2 separate regions of the Homo sapiens genome follow, and region 1 is linked to region 2. The links come from fine-mapping of genetic effects on gene expression. A gene starts in region 2. The other region holds a variant in brackets. All regions are shown on one strand. Distances are from middle to middle.

Region 1 (2,900 bases), 84 kb after region 2:
GAAATTAGGGCAGCAGCCTGCACTAGGGTAGTGGTGGCAGAGCTGGAAAGGAATGGGAGACAGATGTGAGTGATGTAATCAGCAGGGCCCATGGATGGGTTAGGAAAGGAGAGGCCAGACTCCTGGAGTCACTCCTCTGTGACTGGCAGCACCATCTTCTCTGGGGGGACCACAGGAAGAGGCCGGGGTCCAGTTGGGGAAGAGCTTGAGTTTGGGTCGGGACATATTATTGAGGTTGAGAGGCCTTGAGAGGTATAAGGAGACAGTGAGAATAGACGGCTGGCTGAACGGGCCTGACTTTGTGGTGAATATGAAGATGGGTGGACAGCTGCTAATGGAAAAAGGTCACGGAGGAGACTCCTGAAGGGGGGAAGCAGGGAATACAAAGAGCAGAGGACCAAGGGGAGAACCTTGAGCCCTTCATGATGTAATGGCGGGCAGAGGGCAGCGATCCAGCAAAGCAGAGAGGCACCAGCCAGAGAGGCGCTAGAAAAACCAGGAAGGTGCCATCACGAAAGCCCAGGAGAGGTTTTCAAGGAGGGGAGAGCAGTGAACTGTAAGGTCAAGTAAGCTGAGGACCAAGAAGTGTTCTTCGGTTTAACAACATGGAGGTCCCTGATGACAGAGACATTCACACAAAGACTTGAAGAGGGGGTTCAGGTCTGGCTCTGCCAGAAACAGCATGTCTGTGGGCCCAACCCTTCTTCACTCTGGGCCCGGCAGGAGAGCTTCAGGACCACCCCTGCAGGTGCTCTCAGCTCTTGTACCTTTCAACCTGGTCACAGAGGCTGCTGACCCCTAGACCAAGCCAGTGACGTGAGCTCTTCCCTGGAGTCATCCAGGTCTATCCAGGGTGGTACAGGGGCCCTGGTGAATAAGAGAGGGCTTTCTGGGGATATGCTAACTAGAGGCAACCCCCTGTCACTGATGGGCCTTCAAAGAGAAGGCAGCAGGCACCGGGGCCTCTGGACTCAGAGGGTCTGGCTACACTGCATTTCCAGGGGGCCATCAGTGGACGAAGTCGCTGGAGCAACCTGGAGAAGGTCTGTACCTCCGTGAACCTCAACAAGGCCTGCCGGAAGCAGGAGGAGCTGGGTGAGTGGGGTGGTCAGTGTGGGGTGTGCAGTAGGGAGGTGCTCTGAGCCTGGCCTGAGTGTCCTTGCCCCTCAGATTCCAGCATGGAGGCCCTGACGCTAAACCTGACAGAAGTGGTGAAAAGGCAGAACTCCAAATCCAAGAAGGGCTTTAACCAGGTACGGGCTTCCCTCTCCTTCCAGCCATACCCTCAAGAGACTTACT[G/TACTG]GAGCGTGCATGTGCGTATGTGTGTACGTGTGTGTGCACATGTATGTGTGTGCATGTGTGCACATACACACCCGTGTGTACATACTTGTGTGTGTGTGAGAGAGAGAGGAGAGGTGGGGGAGGAGAGGCAGGGTGAGGGGTATGATTTGGGGATGCACACAGGTGTGGAGTGTTGCGGGGTGTCGGGGAGGTAGGGGTGCCCTGTGAGAGGACGCGTGTATGTGGAAAAGTTGTGGGGTGGGTGCCAGGAGAGTCCTAAGACTCTGAGACCAAAGAAAGCAGGCTCTGGATCAGGGGACCTGGGGCTGCTCCGGTGAGGGCAGCAGGCAGGGCAATGTCTCCTCAGGGGGCACTTGCTTCTTCCAGATGCTGGAGAGGAGGCAGGGGCTGATGGAGGCCTCAGGCTCCCTCCTGTGACCTGGCCATTAACCCTGGAGCGCAGTCAGACAAACCCCTGCCCTCCCACACCCCTAGAAGTGGATGGGCAGTTCTGAGAAAAGGAACTGCCAGGGGCTGGCAGTGTTGGATGGCCAGGGATTTGGGGCTGACCTGGGCCTTCCTTCCAGATTAGCACATCGCAGATCAAAGTGGACAAGGTGCAGATCATCGGCTCCAACAGCTGCCCCTTTGCTGTGTGCCTGGACCAGGATGAGAGAAAGATCCTGCAGAGTGTAGTCAGGTAGGAAAGGGGGGTCCTAGGGAGGGGAGCAGTTTCTGCTCCCACCAACCCAGAGGCCTGGAAGGAGCTGGAAGGATGGGGGCCTGCTCTGATCCCTGGCCCCTGCCCTGCTGCACAGATGTGAGGTCTCACCGTGCTACAAGCCAGAGAAGAGCGACCTCTCCTCACCACCCCAGACGCCTCCTGACCTGCCGGCCCAGGCCGCACCTGATCTCTGCTCCCTTCTCTGCCTGCCCATCATGACTTTCAGTGGAGCTCTGCCCTAGTGTGGGCCCAGCGCCAGACTGGACAGAAGCCCTGGGGCAACCTCCTCGGCCACCCCTCCAGGACAGTCCCTCTCTGTGGAGAACTGAATGGCCCTGTGCAGAGCCATAGTCCCACTGTGGGTCCTGCAATGAGCAGGGGCTGGGAGTAGAGGGTTTCTGGGGCCTCAGGGTTCTGGGAAAGCAACAGCTATCAGAGAGAGAAGGGCCAGACCCCATAGCCTCTTAGATTCCTGGCAGTAGAAGGAGAAGGATGGGTAAATTGACCTCTGAAGTCCCTGACCATTAGCATGGTCTAGGATCCTTTCTAGAAGGAAGATCTGAGGCTCTGGTGCTCAGGGGGATGGCTTGGGCCTTTTCTCTCAACCTTGGCTGAGCCTACCCCTTACTTTGCCAAAGACTTGAGGACCCTGTATGTCTGGAGTTCAGTCCCCTCCTCTGTGGGGCTCAGGTGATTGAAATGTGGATGAAACATTTCTCTACTTCAAGACCACCTCTCCCTGCAAACACCACACACACATGGCATGCATGTACGCACATGCGCACACACACACGCACACACCTCAATAATTTCTCTCAAGTTTCCTGAGTCTCCAGAAAAACAGCACTAACGCTGGACCTGTCTACTCTCAGAACCCGGCACAGATTCTCTCTTGATC
Region 2 (2,900 bases):
TATTTCGGGAGTCAGGAAAAGAAAAGTCATTGGTGTTCATATCTCTCAAAGCCTCAGGTAGGGCTGCGGCTTTTGACCAACAATAACGTATGACCATGACCTTGTGGCCGAGTTTGCACGCCTCTAACAGATATTATGACACAGTTCCATTCAATAGTGGAAGTGGAGATTTCAGCGTTGCCCTTTGTTAACCCACAAATGAAGTGCTACTCTTCCATTGTGAGGGCTGTCGGAGCAGTAGCCAACCTTCTTATCCCCATTTTTTAAACGAGGGAAAGGAGGCATAGGAAGCGCAGTGTCTTGTGGGATTCCCTGGGGAGTCCTTCCAACTCTTGGTAGAGCATCATCTGCAACGTCGTCTGGGGGAGAAAAGGGGGAGGCAAGAAGAGGGCCTTGACCCTGGAGGCAGGAACTCCCGCACACCCTCACTCCCTTCCCCAGGGGCTGGGGAAACCACTCAGGTGACAGTAGCCTTGGTGCCGGCCAGGGAGGGCGGGAAGTCCAGCCAGAGGCTGGAACAGCAGTGCTGAACGCCGGGACTGGCTGGTATTTCTATGAAGGTTCCTGCAGAAGGATGCGGGTCAAGGTGCCCGTCTGCACAGCAGTAGTGCAGGCATTTTAAGGGTTAAGGGCACCCAAAGAAAATAGAAGTAGGGGCCGGGCGCAGTGGCTCACGCCTGTAATCCCAGCACTTTGGGAAGCCGAGGCGGGCGGATCACGAGGTCAAGAGATCGAGACCATCCTGGCCAACATGGTGAAACCCCGTCTCTAGTAAAAATACAAAAAATTGGGCGTGGTGGCGCGCGCCTGTAGTCCCAGCTACCCGGGAGGCTGAGGCAGGAGAATCGCTTGAACCCGGGAGGCGGAGGTTGTGGGGAGTCAAGATCGTGCCACTGCACTCCAGCCTGGCGACAGAGCGAGACTCCATCTCAAAAAAAAAAAAAAAAAAAAGAAAGAAAATAGAAGTAGGAAGAGGAAGTGGGTCGCAGTGAGAGAAGGAAGCAGCTCGTCGGAGCTTCCTCTTTCTCGTCTTTCCCCTAAGCCCCTACCCCAGACCTGCCCCCCTGCTCCGCCCAGCCCTCCTGCGGGGCCAAAGCCGCGCTTCCGACGCGGGGGCCTAACCTCCCCTTACTCCTTGGGGGTCGCTGGTGCTCCGCGCTGGTGCCCCTCGGGCCACTGCCATGGACCGGCCAGGGTCTGCTTCTTCCGAGGGCTGGCGGGTCAGAGCCGGGGCTGCTTCTCAGACGCCTTGCGGCCTCGGGGGCGTGACCCAGAGGATGTGGGGCCGGGCGCGCACCTGGCTGACGCTGCCGGGCCGCCAGGTGGCTGGAGAGGCCGGCTCCGCGGTCAGCCCCGCCCCATTAGGCCCCGCCCCCTGACAGGCTCCGCCCCGCCCGCCGGAGGAGCCCAGGCTGGGCAGATGCTGCGGCTCGCCGCGCGGCTCCAGCTGGGGCGCGGTGGTCCCGACGGTCACCCGAATCGCAGGGAGTCGCCGCTGGAGAGGGGCTCGGCGCCCGGCGGGGACTGCAGGTGTGTGACTGGGCGGCCAGGGCGGATGCGGAGGGCACGCATGGGAGCTCCAGGCAGAGCTGGAGCAAGCTGGGGACCGTCGGGGAGAGTGGGCTCCGCGAGCAGCCGCCGCAGCCCGAGGGCTGGACAGATCCTGCTATCTTCCGGCCCCGTGGACCTGGCCCACCGCGGGGGCAGCGGGTCTGCAAACCTGCGCTCCAGATAACCCCAGAGACTTAAGGGGCGTCGCGGGGACCACTTATCGTTATCCGGGTAACCTCTGCTGGGCGGCTCTGCGCAGCTGTGTCCTCAGCCTCCTGCCTCTGACACAGGACGCCCTGTGTCGTAGGGTCAGGTCCCCTGCCCGCTCCAGCGGGGAACTGTCCGTGAGCGTGGGCATCAGGGCTCTTGTGCCGTCAGAACCTGGGAGTCATGGAAGTGCCCGCGTAAGGCGCCCTCCGTCGAGCCTCACTCAGCCTGCTAGTTAGCCAGCCTTGGGCCCAGACGCGGCTGCTGTCCTAGAGAACTGCACGCTTTCTGCTCTCAGAGGATCTGTGTTTACACACTGGACATCCCCGCGTGACTCGTGTGTGTGTGTGTGTGTGTGTGTGTGTGGGCATGCGCATGTGCGCGTGCTGGCCCATCCCGGCCTGGGGTAAATACACAAAAAGTTCAGGTCAGTAGGAGGAAGGAGATTGTTCAGAAGGAAAAGGAAGGCGAGGTTAAAGCAGCAGGATGTGGTATAAAGCGAGTTAACAAGACTCGGAGTAGAGAGGAGGGGTGGGTTTAGGCAGAATAAGGGCTAAAAGTAGGCCAAGCCTGCCTCCAAGGTCCTCTCTGGACTGACACCCTCGTTTTCCTTCTGTGTCTTCTCATCCACCCCACACTTTCCTTCCTGCCCTCAGGACCACCTGTAAGGCACTGGCTCCCAGAGCTGACTGCAGGTAGGGCTCTCTTGGAGCCAACCCTACAACGTGGCTTTCCAGGGATGGGATCTGGAATCTGTAGTTTTCAAAACTTTGAATGAGCTCCTTAAGTGATGATGCTGAAGCCGTTGCTTGGGAACCATGCATGATGTGGAAAAGAGACCCAAGTTCCAACCGGATCCAGCTGTGTGACCTGCAGCATCACACTGTCCCCCAACCCAGCCTCAGTCTCCTGATTCATAAAATGGGCTGTCATACTGACCCATAGAGCTGTGTGGAATTATTATTATTATTATTATTGAGACAGGGTCTTGCTCTGTCACTCAGGCTGGAGTGCAGTGGCGTGATCATGGCTCACTGCAGCCTTAAATTCCCAGGCTCAAGCAATCCTCCGCCTCCGCCTCCCAAGTAGCTGGGATTACAGGTCAGCACCACGGCGCCCAGCTAATTTTTGTATTTTTTGTA

What was found.
Region 1: its variant is fine-mapped to the expression of PIK3R5 in whole blood (INTERVAL, PIP 0.91).

What each region holds. Positions count from the first base shown.
Region 1 is chr17:8,879,983-8,882,882 of GRCh38, reverse strand. It overlaps PIK3R5 (phosphoinositide-3-kinase regulatory subunit 5), which reads left to right. Exons shown (of 19, transcript NM_001142633.3): 16 at 1,002-1,095; 17 at 1,171-1,253; 18 at 1,866-1,978; 19 at 2,097-2,900. The coding sequence ends at 2,244. All of the region lies in intron 1 of LOC124903919 (a long non-coding RNA gene), which reads right to left. Among named protein-coding and RNA genes, the nearest start is that of PIK3R6, 14 kb to the right of the region's middle. The variant G/TACTG (reference allele first, on the strand shown) is at 1,300.
Region 2 is chr17:8,964,226-8,967,125 of GRCh38, reverse strand. PIK3R5 (phosphoinositide-3-kinase regulatory subunit 5) reads left to right here and starts at 1,419. Exons shown (of 19, transcript NM_001142633.3): 1 at 1,419-1,530. It overlaps PIK3R5-DT (PIK3R5 divergent transcript), which reads right to left and starts at 1,279. Exons shown (of 3, transcript NR_184080.1): 1 at 1,123-1,279; 2 at 1-359. RefSeq lists silencers at 1,006-1,105, 1,176-1,495.